Linked DNA regions of Homo sapiens: all the other regions are linked to region 3. The links come from fine-mapping of genetic effects on gene expression. A gene starts in region 3. Each other region holds a variant in brackets. All regions are shown on one strand. Distances are between the middles of the regions.

Region 1 (5,155 bases), 62 kb after region 3:
TACTTTTTTATTTATTTTTATTTTATTTATTTTATTTTATTTTATTTTATTTTATTTTATTATTATACTTTAAGTTTTAGGGTACATGTGCACATTGTGCAGGTTAGTTACATATGTATACATGTGCCATGCTGGTGCGCTGCACCCACTAACTCATCATCTAGCATTAGGTATATCTCCCAATGCTATCCCTCCCCCCTCCCCCCACCCCACAACAGTCCCCAGAGTGTGATATTCCCCTTCCTGTGTCCATGTGATCTCATTGTTCAATTCCCACCTATGAGTGAGAATATGCAGTGTTTGGTTTTTTGTTCTTGCGATAGTTTACTGAGAATGATGATTTCCAATTTCATCCATGTCCCTACAAAGGACATGAACTCATCATTTTTTATGGCTGCATAGTATTCCATGGTGTATATGTGCCACATTTTCTTAATCCAGTCTATCATTGTTGGACATTTGGGTTGGTTCCAAGTCTTTGCTATTGTGAATAATGCCGCAATAAACATACGTGTGCATGTGTCTTTATAGCAGCATGATTTATAGTCCTTTGGGTATATACCCAGTAATGGGATGGCTGGGTCAAATGGTATTTCTAGTTCTAGATCCCTGAGGAATCGCCACACTGACTTCCACAATGGTTGAACTAGTTTACAGTCCCACCAACAGTGTAAAAGTGTTCCTATTTCTCCACATCCTCTCCAGCACCTGTTGTTTCCTGACTTTTTAATGATTGCCATTCTAACTGGTGTGAGATGGTATCTCATTGTGGTTTTGATTTGCATTTCTCTGATGGCCAGTGATGATGAGCATTTTTCCATGTGTTTTTTGGCTGCATAAATATCTTCTTTTGAGAAGTGTCTGTTCATGTCCTTTGCCCAGTTTCTGATGGGGTTGTTTGTTTTTTTCTTGTAAATTTGTTTGAGTTCATTGTAGATTCTGGACATTAGCCCTTTGTCAGATGAGTAGGTTGCGAAAATTTTCTCCCATTCTGTAGGTTGCCTGTTCACTCTGATGGTAGTTTCTTTTGCTGTGCAGAAGCTCTTTAGTTTAATTAGATCCCATTTGTCAACTTTGTCTTTTGTTGCTATTGCTTTTGGTGTTTTAGACATGAAGTCCTTGCCCATGCCTATGTCCTCAATGGTAATGCCTAGGTTTTCTTCTAGGGTGTTTATGGTTTTAGGTCTAACGTTTAAGTCTTTAATCCATCTTGAATTGATTTTTGTATAAAGTGTAAGGAAGGGATCCAGTTTCAGCTTTCTACATATGGCTAGCCAGTTTTCCCAGCACCATTTATTAAATAGGGAATCCTTTCCCCATTGCTTGTTTTTCTCAGGTTTGTCAAAGATCAGATAGTTGTAGATATGCGGCGTTATTTCTGAGGGCTCTGTTCTATTCCATTGATCTGTATCTCTGTTTTGGTACCAGTACCATGCTGTTTTGGTTACTGTAGCCTTGTAGTATAGTTTGAAGTCAGGTAGTGTGATGCCTCCAGCTTTGTTCTTTTGGCTTAGGATTGTCAGGCAGAAGAAATTTCTAAGCAGCAAAGCATTTAAGAGGTGACCGAGCATAAAAGTTTGGAAAATGTGCAGCCTGACAATATGGTAGAAAAGAAAAACCCATTTTCTGGGGAGAAATTCAAGCCAGCTGCAGAAACGTGCACAAGTAATGAGGAGCCAAATGTTAATTGCCAAGACAATGTGGAAAATGTCTCCAGGATATGTCAGGGACCTTTATGGCAGCCTCTCCCATCAGAGGCCTGAAGGCCTACGAGGAATAAATCGGTTCTGTGGGCCTGGTCCAGGGCCCCCCTGCTGTGTGCAGCCTAGAGACTTGGTGTCCTGCATTCTGGCCACTTCAGCCATGTCTAAAAGGGGCCAAGGTACAGCTCAGTCCATGGCTTCAGAGGGTACAAGTCCCAAGCCTTGGCAGCTTCCATATGGTATTGGTCCTGCAGGTGCATAGAAGACAAGAGTTGATGTTTGGAAACCTCTGCCTAGAATTCAGAGGATGTATGGAAACATCTGGATGTCCAGGCAGAAGTTTGCTGCAGGGGTGAAGTCCTCATGGAGAACCTCTACTAGGGCAATGAAGAGGGGAAATGTGGGGTTGGAGCTCCCACACAGAGTCCCCACTGGGGCACTGCCTAGCAGAGCTGTGAGGAGAGGGCCACCATCCTCCAGACCCCAGAGTGGTAAATCCACTGACAGCTTGCACTATGTACCTGGAACAGCCACAGGTACTAAACAGCAGCCAATGAAAGCAGCCCCCGGGCCTGTATCCTACTGAGCCGCAGGGGCAGAACTGCCCAAGTCCATGGGAGCCCACCTCCTGCAACAGTGTGACCTGGATGTGAGACATGGAATCAAAGCAGATTTTGAAGCTTTAAGATTTAATGACTGCCCCGCTGGGTTTCAAACTTGCATGAGGCCTTTGGTTCTTTTGTTGTGACCAATTTCTCCCATTTGGAATGTGTGTATTTACCCAATATCTGTACCCCCATTGTATCTAGAAAGTAAGTAACTTGCTTTCTATTTTACAGGCTTATAGGCAGAAGGGACTTGCCTTGTCTCAGATGAGACTTTGGACTTGGACTTTTGGCTTAATGTTGGTATGAGCTAAGACTTTGGGGGACTGTTGGAAAGGCATGATTTTGTTTTGAAATGTGAGGACATGAGATTTGAGAGGGGCCAGGGGTGGAATGATATGGTTTGGCTGTGTCCCTGCCCAAATCTTATCTTGAATTGTAGCTCCTATAATCCCCAGGTGTTGTGGGAGGGACCCAGTGGGAGGTGATTAGATCATAGGTGTTGTTCCCCCACCCTGTTATCATGATAGAGAGTGAATTCTCATGAGATCTGATGGTTGTATAAGGGGCTTTTCCCTCCTTTGCTCTGCACTTCTCCTTCCTGCCACCATGTGAAGGAAGGATGTGTTTGCTTCCTCTTCTGCCATGATTGTAAGTTTCCTGAGGCTTCCCTAATCCTGCTGACCTGTGAGTCAATCAAATCTCTTTCCTTTATAAATTAC[C/T]GAGTCTCAGACAGTTCTTTATAGCAGGGTGAGAATGGACTAATCGACTGACTTTCTCTTGCCCTCCTGTCTCTCATTTCTCTTCTTTCTCAAGGCACCATAGAAACTAGAATCCTTCTTCTCCAGTGTGGGTCATAGAAACCAGAACACCTTTCCCCAAAGCCAGTCATAAAACCTACAATTATTACTCTAACCTTCTCCCCTGCGTTTCTGTGTAAAAACTGGTCATAAATAAATTATCTGATCTACCTTGTTTGATTGTAGGCCATAAGACCTTCATTCCAGAGGGTGTCCTGGCTTAACCTCAGAAAGGAGGGGAATACATGCTTAGAGAAAACAGGAAGAATCTAGCTGGACAGGGCTTGCTTGGTTTCCCCACTCAGTTATTAGCATTAGCTTTTTTGTTCAACGTATTTCTATACAGTTGCCCATAGTTTGTTGAACATAAGCATAAAAATGGACAATTTCCCCTGTATCTTTGGGCCTTCATTCTGAAAGCTCTTGTGTTATATGAAACTATGATCAAATACATTTCTATGCCTTTTCTCCTATCCATCTGCCTCTAGTCAGTAATTTTTAAATGAACCTTCAAAGGGTGAAGGGGATATTTTCTCTTGGCCCTGACAAGTTGCAAACGAATACTAGAGCTGAACAGTAATTAAAGGCCGGGTACAGTGGCTCACCCCTGTAAACCCAGCATTTTGGGAGGCTGAGGCGGGTGGAACACCTGATGTCAGGAGTTCAAGACCAGTCTGGCCAACATGTTGAAACCCCATCTCTACTAAAAATACAAAAAAATTAGCCAGTCGTGGTGGCACAGGTCTGTAATCCCAGCTACTTGGGAGGCTGAGGCAGGAGAATCACTTGAACCCAGGAGGTGGAGGTTGCAGTGAGCTGAGATCATGCCATTGCACTCCAACCTGGGCAATAAGAGCAAAACTCCATCTCAAAAAACAAACAAACAAACAAACAAACACACACACACACAAAAAAAAAACCGGAAGTAGAAGCACATTTTATTCAGGACTATTGCAATAGGAGAAAAGAGATTTAAGTATAGAATGGGTCTCAGTTCTGAATACAGCTTGAGCAACTAGGAATTTATAGCAAGGGGCCAAGTTGGGGATCAGTAGATGGAAAATTATGAAGAGGAAACATCAGGGGTAAGGAATATTTTGATTAAACTGAACTAACAGGATTCTTGCTGAAGACAGGCCAGGGTGATCAGACATCACTTGAGGGATGGTAGAGGATGAAGAACCCAACTAGCTATTGAGGGTGATCAGATATGAAGGATGGGGGATTCTGGCTAAACAACCCTATCAAGGTTTTTGTTGAAAACTGAAACTTGCAAGAAGTTGCATAGCTAGGCCTAGGAGAAGTTTCAGGAATCTGACAAAAGTTTGGTCAAGCAAAGAATCTTTGTCAAGACCAACAGATTTGGTGAGCATGAATTCGACTTCTACCCCATTGCTTGTGGAGGCAGTCATATATATTTTATATATGCTATATCTCATCAATAAAAGTACACATCTAATAAAATTTTGAGCATGTAACCAACTTTACATGTATTTATAATGACTTATATGATTTTGTGTGCAATGCATATTATAAATAGAAATTTTAAAAGGCTGAGATAAAAATATATCTGTAAATAGAAGTTTTGATAATTTCTTTCCACGCCCCATTGATTGCCTTGGAAGCTGCAATTTGGAAGCCTCTGCTTTAAAACAAGTTTGTAGATGAGGTTGCCCAGAAATAATCTGTTGAGTGGAAATACTATAAGGTTGGAGGTGAATGCTTGGCAATACCCATATATAAGATTGGTTGAACAGTTGAACAGAGGAAATGGAGACCACAAAGGAGACTGAGAAGGAATGGCCAGAGAAGAATCATCTCACAGAAGCTGAAGGAAGACAATAATTCTTGTGTTTATTGTACCTGCCTACATCTTACTGTTGAGTGCATGCCCTGTGACCAGCCCATTTAGAAGAGCTAGAGACTCAGTGAAAAATAAGATGCTATCTTTCTCTAGAAGTAGCAAAAATAAATTTATAATTATATTACAAGGTCATAAACCTTTATTAAAGCATTTGTGATCTTGTAATGTAAATTATATAAATTG
Region 2 (5,155 bases), 27 kb before region 3:
TCTAGCCCCTAGAACTGTAAGAAAATATTTCTGTGCTTTTTAAGTTACCCAGTCTATGGTATTTTTTTATGGAAGCCCAAACCGAATACCAGAAGGTGGGGGTCAACAGTTTGAGGACAGGAGGAGGGGGAGGTCTGCTTACTTCTCACCATTTCCTTCTGCATCCTGTGTTGTCTCTGCAAGTGCTTCTCTTTCATAACTCCAGTCCCTCAAAGAAGACATGCACCCTGAGATCCCACTTCTGACCAAGATGTTTTTTCCCCCATGCCTCTGGCTCCCACACAGTGGAAAGCGCTCCCTTCCATTGTCCCTCCTGCCCTAGAGATGGTAATGGCTTCTTGCTGTTGCCAATCTATCTTTGCACTACTCACCTCTACTTGTTTCTCAACAATTGCGTTATCTATTGTCTTAGTCTGTTTTGTGTTGCTATAACAAAAATACCTAAGACTGGGTAATTTATAAAGAAGATAAATTTATTTTCTCACAGTTCTGGAGGCTGGAAGTCCAAGATCAAGGTGGCAGCAGATTCAGTTGTCTTGTAAGGGCTGCTCTATGCTTTCAAATAGTGCCTTGTTGCTACATCCTCCAGAGGGGAGAAACAGTGTCCTCACATGACAGAAGGTGGAAGGGTAAGTGGGATACATGTTACTTGCATCTACTTTTATATAAGGGTCATAATTCCATTCATGAAGGGAAAAGCCTTTATGACCTAATCACCTCTTAAAGGCCATACCTCTTAATAACATCACATTGACCAAGTTTCAATGCCAGAATTTTGGAGGGAACCTATTCAAACAATATAATCTGGAAAACAGTTTTCTGTAGTAAATCTTTCTGGTTGAAAAACCCAGAGTATGGCTTGGATAGAGTTGACTGCTACAGAGGCATTTTACTTAACAAGGCTTCATCGTTCAGGGTTTAGAATGAATCTTTCAGGTAATAATTGTTGGAGAGTTCATGTAACCACTCTGACTTGTCAGATTAGTAATGTGAAGCCTATTCTACCATCATTTTCTACTAAAGTCTTCCTCTGTTATTCTCATAACTCATAATGCATTTAAACAGCAAAACTGCAAATTAAGTTTCTTCCAGCATATTATACGTTGCTGCATTCACTTTTTATTTTCACTCATATTTCTTTTTTCCTCCCCATCTTACTCAACAAGTTAGTTTTTGTTATAAATATTTTTCAGTTTGAATGAAAAAAAAATGATTGAAGCAAAATGATCCATGATCAAATTTAACACTAGGAGGCTCAGAGAAATCGTGAACTCAGACGCTGGTTTTGTCACTGACTGCTTCAGTAAAATCTTTAATTGTTCTTTAGATGATGTATTGGATGATAAGTTCTGATTCCCACAGATAATTGAGTCCTATACCCCTAGGTTTGAATTTTTTTTTTTTTTGGTCCACACTTTAAATTGTGCCCAGAAAATTCTCTGGATAGAATTTGATTGCAGATGTCTATTATATTCCGATGAACACATATCAGTCAGTCTTCCAAAGCATTTTACAATGAAGTGAAGCTGACCTTGTAATATGGTAGCACACTTATCAGGCCATTAAAATGTCCCTCTTATGTAATAGTAGCCAGTTGCAATTGACCAAAAGAAACTTTGATGGGCTTTCACTTGGAAACTTGTGCAAGTATGTTCTTTATTTTGATTTCTTTCCATAGGACCTTCAGTTTTCCATAGCATGTTTCAAAAGATGGATGAAAGTAAACATGATACAATATTTTAGTTAGGACCTATCTAATGTCTCACAGAGAAGTTTTTCTATGAAGTTCAACCATAAATACAAATAAAGCATGTTCTGTACACAATTCATTGTCATACTTTGATATTTATCAAACACCCCAGGGAGGCATGATGTGCTTTCTTCCCAATTGCTGTATATTTTCAGCCTCCATCAAAAAGTATTATAATTAAGTATTAATATACTAATAGTTTAATTGAAACTATAAAAATAATCTAATTTATAACCTCAGAAAATATATTTTGACCTAAAATCATCAGCATTCATTAGTAAATTGTGTGTTCCTTTATACATTTTAATCTAGTAAATAAGATTCTTTTCTCACCCAATACTGGAATTAGCTTTAGCCTGTTTTCAGTAACCTCTTCCAACCCATATGTAACATCATTTATTGTCACAAAAACCTTCTTAGCTTAAGTCTATTATAATTTGTAAATGTACATAATTTTTCTCTTCTCAAACTTGGTAAGAAATTCGCAAAGTATGAGTGCCTTCATCACCATTATCATTATCAAATAATACTGCTCTCCCCCAAGTGCATGAGGCTGCTGGAGACTACTAAATTACATTAAATTCTTT[C/G]TGCTCCATTTTAGCAAGAGAAATTTGCCCAAGTTTATGCAGTATAGAAAGAGAAAGTGAGAGTTAAATATCACATCCACATAATGCACTCCGATGTGCTCCACCAAAACTAGCGTTTTACAGTAATTCCAGTGTACTGTATGTTTTTGTTTTGAACTAAAACGGAACTTGGGAGGAAATTTCATTTTCGATACTGTAAATTTACTGTGAAAGAAATGGGAAATAGTGTCCCCAGGCAGTGTCAGAATGACTGCTGCTTTCCCTTCTCACTGCAATTAGAGTTCTAGCCCCAGGCGGCAGGTAGGTGCAGACACAGGTGACTTGCTTTTGATTGGCAGGCTCATGAAGCAGCTAGATGGGGGATTCCTGGGACTGAGTGGAGGATTCATTTACCTTCAAGGCTGGTTTTGGAAGCCTTGGCTTCCTGACTAAAAAATGTGGATTCTCTTTCATATAGGTTATAATCAAATGTTGCATTGGCAAGCATCTGAAGGACAACCTCCTAAACAGCCAGCATCGCTTGTACAGCTTCTGTAACTGACATTGGTTTGGTTTTGGTTAACAAGTTTTCATGAGAATTTTATAACTTAGTGTTTACACTTTCAGCACTTGATGCTCTTTTTGCCTGCTTAGAGAGCTTCCTTCCAACTGATGCTGTGGCCCAAACAACAAAACATACGGCATAAGAATATGCTTATTTTCCTGAAATTTGTATGTGATTTTCTGACCAAATCACAAATTGCAGAATTAAAAGTATCTTCTTAATTTAAAAATAAGAGAATATCCTGTCTGTACTAAAAATACAAAAATTAGCTGGTCGTGGTGGAGGGTGCCTGTAGTCCCAGCTACTTGGGAGGCTGAGGTGAAAGAATCGCTTGAACCCATGAGGTGGTTGCAGTGAGCTGAGATTGCACCACTGCACTCCAGCCTAGGAAACCGAGTGAGACTCTATCTCAAAAAAAAGAAAAAGAATATGAGTATCATATGAATTTAGTGTTAAGTGAAATAAAATATTTTACAGCATTTCAATACAAAAGTAGTTTCTTTCTATCTAGTATTATCATTTAAATCATAATAGAATGATAGTCTTAGAAATCATAGATGACACAAACAAATGGAAAAACATTCCATGCCCATGGATTGCAAGAATCAATACTGTTAAGATGTTCATACTGCCCCAAGAAATCTACAGATTCAAGCTATTCCTATTAAGCAACCAATATTGTTTTTCATAGAACCAGAGAAAAACTATTCTAAAATTTATATGAAACCAAAAAAGACCCAGAATAAGCAAAGCAATCCTAAGCAAAAACAACAAAGCTGGAGGCATTACATACCTGACCTCAAACTATACTATAAGGCTATAATAATCAAAATAGCATGGTACTGGCACAAAAATAGTCATACAGATAAATGGCACAGAATAGAGAACCCCGATACAAAGTTGCACAGCTGTAACCATCTGATCTAAGCCATCGAAGTTAATAAGTGGAAAAATGACACCCTATTCAATAAATGGTGCTGGAATAGCTGGCTAGCCATATGCAGAAGAATGAAACTAGACCACTACCTCTCACCATATTCAAATATTAACTCAAGATGGATTAAAGATTTAAATGTAAGACATCAAACTACAAGAATCCCAGAAAAAAGACCTAGGAAACACAATTCTGGATGTTGGCCTTGGGAAGGAATTTATGACTAAGTCCTCCAAAGCAATCGCTACAAAAACAAAAATTGACAAGTGGAATCTAATTAACTTAAAGAGCTTCTGCACACCGAAAGAAACTATCAACAGACTAAACAGACAGCCCACAGAATGGGAGAAAATATTTGCAAACTGTGCTTTCCATAGAGGCCAAATATCTGGAATCCATAAGGAACTTAAACAATTGAACAATAAACAATATATAACCCCATTAAAAATTGGCAAAAGATATGAACAGACATTTATCAAAAGAAGACATATGAGCAGCCAACAAACATTAAAAAATGCTCTACATCACTAATCTTCAGAGCAATGCAAATCAAAACCACAGTGAGTTACCATCTCACACCAGTCAGAATTGTTATTATTAAAAAGTCAAACAACAGCAGATGCTGGTAAGGCTACAGAGAAAAGAGAATAGTTTTACACTGTTGGAGGGAATGTAAATTAGTTCAGCCACTGTGGAAAGCAGTTTGGAGACTTCCCAAAGAACTTACAACAGGACTACTATTCAAACTAGCAATCCCATTACTAGGTGTATAGCCAAAATAAAATAAATTATTCTACCGAAAAGACACATGCACTCATATGTTCATCACAGGACTATTCACAATAACAAAGACGTAGAACCAGAGTAGGTGCCCATCAACAGTGGATTGGATGAAGAAAATGTAGTACATATACACCATAGAATACTATGCATCCATAAATAAGAATGAAATCACATCTTTTGCAGCAACATGAATGCAGCTGGAGACCATTATCCTAAGCAAGTTAATGCAGAAAAATAATAAAAAAATACCACATGTTCTCACTTATAAGCAGGAGCTAAACAATGGATAATCATGACCATAAAGCTGGCAACAACTGACACTATTAGAGGGGTCTAGTAGGGAAGGATGGAGAAGGGCAAGTCTTGAAACCCTAACTATTCAGTACTATGCTCAGTACTTGGGTGACAAGATCAATTGTACCCCGAACCTCAGCATCACAAAATATACCCAGGTAACTTGAGTCTAAAATGAAAGTTGAAATTATGTATATATATATATAGAACTGTCTTATAGTCTTAACTTTAGCTTCTTTACTAACTCATCCAGATCCTACTTT
Region 3 (5,155 bases):
CACTTTATTATTATTTGATTTTAGTTACTCTTATAGCTGCCATTGTGAAGTCTTTGAAATTTTAATTGCTATATAGCATCCTAGTGGATTCTTTATAGTCTTGAAAATATTTAGGATCCTGTCTCAGGCATAAAAATAAACTGCTCAAAACCTTTTGTCAAGTTTATGCTCGAAGCTATTGTATCCTTTGGGTTATTTTCACAGGCACGGTTTTTAGGCGTTTCTTTCTAACACTGTTGAATTTCTGAACCTTAAATGTGTCAACGGCCATCTGTAGTTCTACTCCAAATATCCTTCCCAGTTGGGGTTGTAATACTCATCTCCCACATTCAGGACCTCGGCTAACTCCTCTCAACCCTTTGCCTGGTCTGGGGCATACTAAATTACAAAGAACAGGCTGAATCTTTTAACGTGGTCTTTTTGCTAGAAAAAGTAATATCACAACGACAGTAATGCATCTCATGTTTTAGTAACAATGGTTTACCCTAGGGAGCATTAACGTCACTAACGTCACTGTGTACCTTAGCAGCTACTTTTCCTCGCATTTTATAATTCCCCTTCCCTCCGCCCCCCGGCCCCACCCGTGGGCAGCATCCCAAAGCCGCCTGGCTGACGTTGGTTAGGGTAGAGACGCCCTCCCTAAAGGCTGTCCAAGCCGTCTCTTCCTTTCATTAGCGGTGTAATCCTGTGTTCCCGCCGGAGCCTGGCACGGAAGTGTAATCTTCCCGCGGGGGCCCTTCTGTCGTCTCGCCTACCTGAGAGCTGAGACTAAATGAAATATAAAATATTCACGATAAGAGGAAACAAAGGATGCTGCCTCCAGGACGGCTACTGTGCCTGAGGCTGGGCTCCTTCTCAGTCATCCCAGGGCCTCTCCGTCTGGCCCCACCCTCGCCCCTCCAGGGGATCCACAAGTTGAATCGCAGCTCTCCAGGGTTAATTGCCCTGGCCGGGAGCCAGACTCCTCACCGCCGCCCCGTTCCCCCCTGCTGGGGAGCGCAGAATGACCACCAGGAGGCCAGGAACAAAACGCTTAAATGTTGCATTTATTAAGGAAATGTTAAATAAGAAAAAAACAAAAAGTCAAAACGGTGTCACGGATGTCAAGAGCACTTTTGTGGCGTAAACCGTGCAGTCACGAGCTACGAGTTCTATTCTGGGTCTTTGTCCCAGGGCCAGCAGGAACGCTAGACGCCTCCCAAAAGACCCAGTGGGAAATGCACTAAAAGAAACAACTCACCCCGTTCAAATTCGCAGGCTCCCCCTCCCCCCACCCCTTCTCCCACAATGACAAAACTGTAACTCCTCAGGCAGGCAAACAGGCCACTGGGGCAGAAAAAGACTTATCAAACATTTGTATTCAAGCAAACAAACACAAAACCTCTTAAAACGGCACGTTACAATCAAAGGTATTTATCGCCCCTCCCCTCCAGGGCAGGGGGGGAGCAGGAGAAGAGTGGGAGCGCACCCGGACACGGATTTGTGAGACCCCATGAGTCTGCTGCGTGGCTTTTAACAGGTCACTCTTCCGGTCACAAGGCGATCAGTGCCGCTGGGTCTCTCCCCTGCCCGCCCTCTCCACCTGCCCCCAGAGCTTGGCCCACCTGCGGGTGGAGAAGGGCCTTCGCACCGTCGGTCTCCCCGCATTCCAAGTAAGTAGCAGCTTCCAAAGTTCTGCGCCCTAATCGCCCTCTTCTTGCCACTTTCTGCTGAGTTCAGAGTCTGGGCGCTCTCCTCCGACTGCCAGGCATGAGGACTTTCAGAGGGCGAGGGAGAAACCGGTCGCTTCTTTCCGAAAGGCCGAAGTCGAGAGAAATAATTGACTCCGACAGGTTTGCTTCGCCCAGTCTCTGATAGTGAGGGGCACAGCCGGGCTAGCAAAGTGGGCAGGCGTGGGAGCGGTTGCCGCGGGGGCAGAGGGCGGGTCAGTAGGGCCCCACGACCACCGCCTCCACCTCCTTAGACGGCCTCCGGTCCTTCACGAGGAAGTTGATCATGCCCTCGGACTTGATGAGCAGATTGCAGCCGAGGAAGAAGATGCCGAAGACCACGGTGAGTGAGAGCACGCACATGACCGCGATCTGCACCACGCGCATTATGTACAGGCTACGCTCGTCCGGGCCTCCCTCCGCGAAGCCGTCGTCGGTCACCACGGACGCCTGGGTGCAGCAGCGCACGGCTCGCTCCAGCGCCTCGCTGCTGTTGGCCAGGAACAGGCCCGCCACGTCCGTCTGGTTGCCTAGGGCCGGATTCATCGCAGGAACGGGCGGGCGCCGCGAGCGGCGCGGGTCCGAGGGGTGGGAAGGCGGCGGCGCTGGAGGAACAGGTGCCGGGCTGAGCGCTCACTCGCAGACTAGCGCGTGCGAGGGCTCCTCGCTCTGCTTTCGAAAGTCCCTGGGCCGTGGGAGTTTCCCAGGAGCCTCTCCGACGCGCGCAGCAGCTAGGCTCTTCTAAAGCCGTCCGCTCCAGCCCTGGTGGTGCTCGTTCCCGGCGCTCGCTCGAGGGGGGGCTGTTGGAACTTGGCGGGGCTGGACCAGCCCGGCCGTGGGAGGTGCGGGCCGCGGCGGCTGCAGCGGCGGGGTGGCTGCGCTGAGCAAACAGCGGCCCCTTCCGGCCGCACCGCCGCGCTGCGCGCTGCTCTTGGGAGGTGGAGGAAGCAAAGGGGCGAACCTGGTCTTGCTTTTTATTGCTTGCTTCTTTTGCAAACTCCAAAGGCCAGGCAGAGGTCACTGTACTCTTCTAGCTTGATGGATGATTAAAGAGTTTGTCGGGGGAGGGTGCGGTCAGCTGAAAGTTTCAGAGGAACTGGGACACACGAGCTCTGCGTGTCCTTTGCCTGCTGCCCCCCTGACCTCTGGGCGAATGGAAAGTGGCGATGAATCGCAGGTGCCAGATGGTGCCGGCTGAGGCCACCCGCCCACTGCCTGTGCTTGACTCCGACTCGCCTGCGTTGGATTTCTAGTGGAGTGGAGGTGATCTGAGAATGTTTCTTACAAAGCAATGAATTTGGAAAGACAGAAAGGCATGGAAGAAGGAAGGAAGAAAGGAAGGAAGGAAAGAAAAAAGGAAGGGAGGGAGAAAGAAGAGCTCTACACCCAGCTTCCTTTACAAAAGCGATTGGGAGACAGAGCAAGGCAGGTTTTACCGTGAGGTTTGAGGCCAAGGAAAGAGGGTTAGAGGAAGGAGGAGTTCTTCTGTGGCCCTTGGGTGGAGGTAGTTGCCGGGAGCAGGGTCACCTCTCTGGTAAAGGAGGTGAACAGAGTGACCACTTGCTTGTAATTTTAATTGCAGATAAGTTTTTGGATGTGCTTCCAGCATTTTGTCCGTTGGCAGTAAATCAGTTGTTGAAGGGAATTGCTCATCAACATCCATCACCTAGAACGCTGGCCAAATACTGGGAGCCCTCCCCATTTTCCATAAGCTGATGTATTTCACCCTTAGTCATTTAAACTAAACACAGATGTTTTTATAGGCCTGATTGACGCTTCAGCCATTGTGATTTTGCTCTAGGTTCCAACGAAATTCTATAAACCTGTCAGATTAAGTTTCTTAACTCTGAAAGAATATTGCATGTTCCCGCTCCCCCTTTTCTGTTTTCTTTCCCCTCCCTCCTTTTCCCCATTACTCCCTGCCTTCCTCCCTCTTTCTTTCAGCTGTAACAGCTGGAAACCAGTAACTTGAGCTTCCAATAGAATACATTTACTTTCTATTAAATGTTCTCACCACAAAGAACTGATAAAAATTTGAGATAATGGGTACGCTAATTACTCTGATTTGATCATTCCACATGTATATGTGTATCAAAATATCACTTTGTACCTCATAAATATGTACAGTTGTCAATTAAAAATAAAATAAAACTGAAAAATAGTAGCTGTCTTGCCATTTTCAACTCTACTCTTAATTTCATTCTGTTTGCTTGGTAAATCCTCTTATTTCTGTTTCTTAAAACATCATTTATTCCATCTTCAGAGTGTTCCTTAAATGTTTTTGCACTGCTTCATGACTATCATAAAATAGAATGAAATGCCTTCTGGTTGAGTTTTCAATTTTTTGATATTTATGGTATATCAGCTGCAATAAGTTTGATTTTTTAAAATAGCTATTATTATTTTGAGGGGGATGTTTAACAGCTGAAAATTCAGGCTTGGGCTTCTACCACAATTCACTGGCTTATTGTTCTAGTTTCCCATAATTTAATTAGAATTGAAAAATACCTCACTCTCGGCAATTTCTTCTTTGAAGAAATTTATTAATAATTGATAAGTAAGAATTTACTTAAATCTCATCATACAATCAGTCTATCTTAGTTAATGTGGGTAGTCCTCAAGAATAATAAAACGTAATGTATACATGGAAAAAATTACAACAAATTTAAGGCAATATAAAGTCATCCTGAGATGAATGGTAGAGAAAAGTAATAGAAATTTAGAAAAATAAAAGGTCAGAGAACAGAGGCCCACCTCCAGGGATCAAGTTGTACAGAACTGTGTGTTCAGTAGAAGTTAGGTGTAAGCAAATGGAGAGCCCCTTCTTTATGTGACAAAAACCAAGAGTTAGTTTATAGTACATTTGTAAGATCCAATATGGAAGGATGCTAAAAGTGTTAGTTGAATCATTATCAGAATTTGAGTATATTTATTGCTAGGAACAGTATTGCTGTTTTCGTCAGGTCAGTGTTAAAATGATCAAACCTTGGAGTCAGGAGAGTTTTTATATTTAATCAAATCTTTGGGTGGGATCTTTTCTCTCAGGTTTAAGGACTAATTAGTCACAAAATTGTTGACAAGGTAATAGGTATTTCCCCCATCAGCTAGTTCAGCTCTCTGGTTTTGTTCAAGACAATCTTGGGATTGTTTCCCTTATTTTCCCTCCACTCTGATTTTGTTTAATAAAATTACTTAGAACATATAGATGGAAATTAATTATAAACTTAGTCATACAAAAATTATATTTATTATTCATTCATTAATTGACTTAAGGGGATCTGTGTTGCTAGAGAAATCTTTATGTTTTACAGAATCCCTTTTATTTATCTTTTCCTTTTGAATTTTCAGTGAACAATTTCAGTTTTTCTCCTTTTATTCACCTGTTTCTTAGGAGAATCTCACAAGTGTGAAAAAAGAAATCTTTAAGAAATGTTGACATTGAAAAA
Region 4 (5,155 bases), 160 kb after region 3:
TGTGTGGTGGGGTTTTTTGGCCTGTACCAAATGCAAAATGTCATGTATTCATCCATCATTGCAGTATCATATACAATAGTTTCACTGCCTGAAAAAATCCCCTGTGCTCCACCTGTTCATCCTTCCCAAACTCCACCCCTTATCCCCTGGAAACCACTGATTCTTGCACTCCCTCTGTAGTTTTACTATCTCAATAGTTTTACCTTTTTTATAAAATAAAACATATAGGATACAATTTGAATCATATAGCATGTAGCCTTTTGAGAATGGTTTCCTTTATTTAATAATATGCATTAAAGATTTATCTGTGTTTTTTCATGATTTGATAGCTCATTTATTTATTTTTTATTTTATTTATGTATTTATTTTTGAGATGGAGTCTCACTCTTTTTGCCCAGGCTAGAGTGAGGTGGGGCAATCTCAGCGCAATGCAACCTTCACCTCCTGGGTTCAAGCAATTCTCCTGTCTCAGCTTCCCAAGTAGCTGGGATTACAGGCACACACCAATACGCCCAGCTAATTTTTTTGGCACTTTTTTTTTAGTAGAGATGTGGTTTCACTATGTTGGCCAGGCTGGTCTCGAACTCCTGACCTCAATTAATCCACCCGCTTCGGCCTCCCAAAGTGCTGGGATTACAGGCGTGAGCCACCATACGCAGCGCCATCTATTTTTATATTAATAAATAATATTTCGCTGCATGGTATACCATAGTTTGTTTGTTCCTTTATACCTATACAAGGCATCTTGGTTACTTCCCATTTTGGGAAACTGAAATTCAAGGAAATGGCTAAGCATACCTTTAATTTCCAACATATACAAAATAGAAAATATAATCTATGTTTCCCCTATCCCTCAGGTTGTATTTGTGTGCAGTTCAATTCATATTTCTGAATCACACAGCTGAGGATATAAAGTATTCTTCTTAGAAGAAATAAATATGCTTAAGCTACACATAAAATAAGACATTATCTCACCAAGTAGTCATTTTTTTCCCATTCAGTTTACTCCCTTTCACCATTGTAGATGATAATAAACTTGAGCAAATATTAGGTTTTTTCCTTTCAAAGTTTTAAGAATGTTTCATATAGATAGATTCTAGATATATGTTATTTACAGACATTTTGAAGCCATCACCTCTTCCAAGAAATGCCTCCTCTTTGTTTGCCTACTACAATATTTTTCACCATAGGAGACATTTATCACCTGGTGGTGAATTACCTGTTGTAGTTTACCAGCTTGTTCCTCTTTGCCATGTTTTTCAGGAGTGGCTAGCTAAGGTGTCCAGTGAGTGATCTATTTCCAAGGATAGTCTTCTTAGCGTATTTTCAGAATTCCCCAATCTTTGGAACTGTGATGCTAGAGATTTATGAAAGTCTTTATTATGGCTTTGGCATCCTGTATAAAAGCCTCTGCATTTTTCATAGCAAAACATTTATAGTACTTTTTTCTCTAGCATTATGGTTTTATAAATATCTTATTATAACCAATAAAGTCTGTGGACAGAACTGTCAATCTTTTCTTTTAATAATTTCCGATGTCTGACTTAAATTCTACAGACCCTAAAGATTTAAAAATCAAATTAGCTACCTTTTGAGTGCTGTTGAATTAAAGATCATCATTTTCCATCGTCTCATTGAAAGATGTCAGATGTAATGCAGAAGAATTTCCATAACTTTGTGTGGCATATTGGTGAATTGTCAGGAACACAAACAGAAGTTATACAGGGAGTCAGTAGTCCAGAACCACCGGGAAAATTATTTAGTAAATGAGTCACACATAATTTTAAGTTTTATGATTTTATTCAGAAAAAACACTTGAACATAACTAAGAAAATAAGCATAAGTAATTAACCAAATTAGAACTCTTACCTTTTATGTAACCTACACTTATATTCAGAAGAGCACTTTTGTTGAAAATTGTATGAATCATGAAAGTAATAGAATGTAGTACATGTCTATTCAACTCACACTTCTTTCTGATAATACACTGATGGGACATTTTATAATTGTTCTTGATGACATCTACTCTGAGAGGTAAAGACATGAAATCCATACTCCTAGACTCTCTTCTTCATCCATTCATCCTTGGGAGAAGTGGTTCATTATGATACTAACTTTTGATGATTGAAAAAAGATGGAAATCTTTTTTTTTTTTTTTTTTTTTTTTCTGAGATGGAGTCTCGCTCTGTCACCCAGGCTGGAGTGCAGTGGCCCGATCTCAGCTCATTGCAACCTCCATCTCCTGGGTTCAAGCGATTCTTCTGCCTCAGCCTCCCGAGTAGCTGGGACTACAGGTGTGCACCATCACACCCGGCTAATTTTTGTATTTTTAGTAGAGACGGGGTTTCACCATATTGACCAGGCTGGTCTTGAACTCCTGACCTCGTGATCTGCCTGCCTCGGCCTCCCAAAGTGCTGGAACTACAGGCGTGAGCCACCATGCCCAGCTGAAAATCTTTACTGAGCACAAATTACACACTAAGCACTGCTATAGATTTTTTTTTTTTAACTTGCTTTCTCTTCCTGTGGTTCTCTCTTACCTCTGGGAGGCAGGCATCTTGATCTCTAATTTGCGAATGTGAAAACTGAAGTTGAGAAAAATTAGGTGCTAAAGCAGAGTGATTTTAGAAAGCATTAGTTTCTAAGAAGTGTGGAACTGATAACTACTTTAGAGGAAATTTGTTCTTGAAAGCAGGGGAAAAAAAAACCACTTTCTAAGAAAGGCAAATGGAGGTGAGACTCTTGAAGCAAAGCATGTGCTTTATTATTTTCCTTTGATCCTTTGGTAGACCCAGTTTAGGCTTCCTGCCCAGTTGAAACATTTTTTTCTGA[G/C]AAATTTTGCCATCCCCCAAGTGGCAATCATAAAAGATAGTACACTACCTTTCCACAATGCATTTTCTTTTGCTTCAGGTAATTTGAAGGGAGTTCCTGGTATTTGCAACCAAGAAACTTTAAACAGATTTTTTCTAGAACTCTCTACTCATAGTACAGTAAATATGTATATATATATATATATACACATATATATGTATATATATATACACACATATATATGTATATGTGTATACGTTTGTTTTTAACTTACCTTTCAGTCTTCAAGATTTAAGAAAACAATTATTTGGATGACTGTAAGAAATTTTGTGATACTAAAAGTAAATTAGGGCAAGAAGTTGGAAATGTAGATATTTAAAAGTTTATAGCCTAGGATGAATTCTGCAGAGTTGAAGAGGCACCACCCACTGTCTTGGAACTCATTCGTATCTTTGGATACGGAAAGGTCAGGTGGCTCTGTGTCCACAACTACTCTGTGTAACTCCACTAATTTTATGCTACTGACTGGAAATATTCAAATATTGCATATCTGTGGTTTCCCTGTAGCATAAGTCAGTAAACTTCAAAGACTTCACTGATAAGTTTGAGGCTTTAATTTCTTTCTAGTATCATGTTTTTTTTTGTACATGTTTAAGAAAAGGCTTTTTGAAATTTCAGATGCTTTGAGGCAGGGGTAAAAAGAAACATAAGAGAAAATGCCTTGTTTGAATGATGTATTAAATAGAAGCTAAATGTGTAAACTTGAAGGATGTATGTGTGTTGATGTGGGATGAGAACACTGTGAAGAGGAAATTCCGAACTCCATGCATTTCTATTTCACATTTGGTGATTACATTTTTAGCATGCTGGGAAAGAAATCAGACACAAAACGCCCGTTATATAAAAAGATTTTTTCTGTCTAATTCCCCCCTTCACCATGCTAACTACATACCCACTTATATTTAATTCCACACACTCAAAATGCAGTCACATTTTGAAGGGGAAAATAGTTTAAACTAAGACAAGCAATTACCTAGTTATTTTTTAATATTCCCCTCTGCTCCCTATTACTGACTTTAATGAAAACCAGAACAGCATATACTACATTTTAAAAAATTAAATATGTCCCAGTGAATAGGTGCAGAATCATACTTTATTTAATAGTTTTCAACTATTTTAAAAACAGAAAGGTGGTATCCTCAGTTGATATTAATGTGTAAAAAGGCTTCTCGTAGTTTTTATTTAATAGGCAGAATTTCCTTTTTGACTGTGGTTAGCAGAAAATAATAATAGTTACAGTTACAAAATGCTTTAAATTCAAACGTTCTCCCACCCCAATCAAAGACCTTGTTAGATAAAATAGGATATTTCTGGTTTTTAAATTTGGAGAAATTGAAGCTCAGTTTTGCAAACTCAAGGAACCTCTCATCAATCATCAAAATAGTGCTGGAATCCAGGCTTCTCTTCCTTCTAGTAGGGCCAGGGCTCTTACTGCTTTCCTAATGCTGTGTACCATTTAAACCCTCTGAAATAACATGTTCAAATATTTGTTCCTACATTGCTAGGAATTTAGAGGAAAATAGAGAAGACTTAAAGAAATTATTACAGTAAGAAAGTAGAATCTTTGAAGGCAAGATAAATCAGTTGACATAGTCTAGCCTGGAGAGGATAAGGTTAGAAGGTGACTTGATACATGTCTTTAAGTAAAATGATCCTGTGAAGAGGTGCTCTGTATCTCTGTCAAGGTGATAGTATGAATTACAGTGATGAACTACTGGGTCAAATATAAGGTATATTTTATTGACAGGGACTGCATTAAATTCGATAATAGGCACCAAAAAAAGGTGAAATGTCCTTTTACAAAGAAATAAAGAAAATAAGGTCTGAAGCTCCATTTTACCTGATTAAATTATAACATCATTTATGGTTATTCAAGCTTGTAATAATATATCTCTGGTCATATACCAAATTGCTAATCTCTAAAATGATCGAATCTTATGAATGAGCGTATCTATATGATGTATTAATTCCCTTTGAAGTCCACATTGCCTCATTTCAATTGAATTGAATATTCTAACTGGAAGGAAGCAAAAGATACTGCAATCTATCACATGATCTTTAATTAACTAACAGTACCTCAGGGTGAATCCAAAAGCTGTTCTTATGCAGTGGAAATTCCAATTTTGGCTTCCTTTTCCTGCCTTTTTTTGTTTTTTCTTCAGTTATTCTTCATCTACATTTTGTTACTGATAAACCTCTCTAGATAGTAGGATAGAATAAAGAAGAACTGAGAATTCAAGCTTTCCTAATGTTATTACTTCTTATCAGGCTTGTTTTCAAAAAG

What was found.
Region 1: its variant is fine-mapped to the expression of RPRM in whole blood (INTERVAL, PIP 0.95).
Region 2: its variant is fine-mapped to the expression of RPRM in whole blood (TOPMed, PIP 0.96).
Region 4: its variant is fine-mapped to the expression of RPRM in whole blood (INTERVAL, PIP 0.97).

The regions. Positions count from the first base shown.
Region 1 is chr2:153,538,343-153,543,497 of GRCh38, forward strand. It overlaps a transcript of GALNT13 not described here. Among named protein-coding and RNA genes, the nearest start is that of RPRM, 62 kb to the left of the region's middle. The variant C/T (reference allele first, on the strand shown) is at 3,031.
Region 2 is chr2:153,449,186-153,454,340 of GRCh38, forward strand. It overlaps a transcript of GALNT13 not described here. Among named protein-coding and RNA genes, the nearest start is that of RPRM, 27 kb to the right of the region's middle. The variant C/G (reference allele first, on the strand shown) is at 2,338.
Region 3 is chr2:153,476,311-153,481,465 of GRCh38, forward strand. RPRM (reprimo, TP53 dependent G2 arrest mediator homolog) reads right to left here and starts at 2,452. Exons shown (of 1, transcript NM_019845.3): 1 at 1,028-2,452. The coding sequence starts at 2,255. The coding sequence ends at 1,926. It also overlaps a transcript of GALNT13 not described here. RefSeq lists enhancers at 619-1,122, 1,123-1,626, 1,627-2,130 and a silencer at 2,487-2,686.
Region 4 is chr2:153,632,400-153,637,554 of GRCh38, forward strand. It overlaps a transcript of GALNT13 not described here. Among named protein-coding and RNA genes, the nearest start is that of RPRM, 160 kb to the left of the region's middle. The variant G/C (reference allele first, on the strand shown) is at 2,833.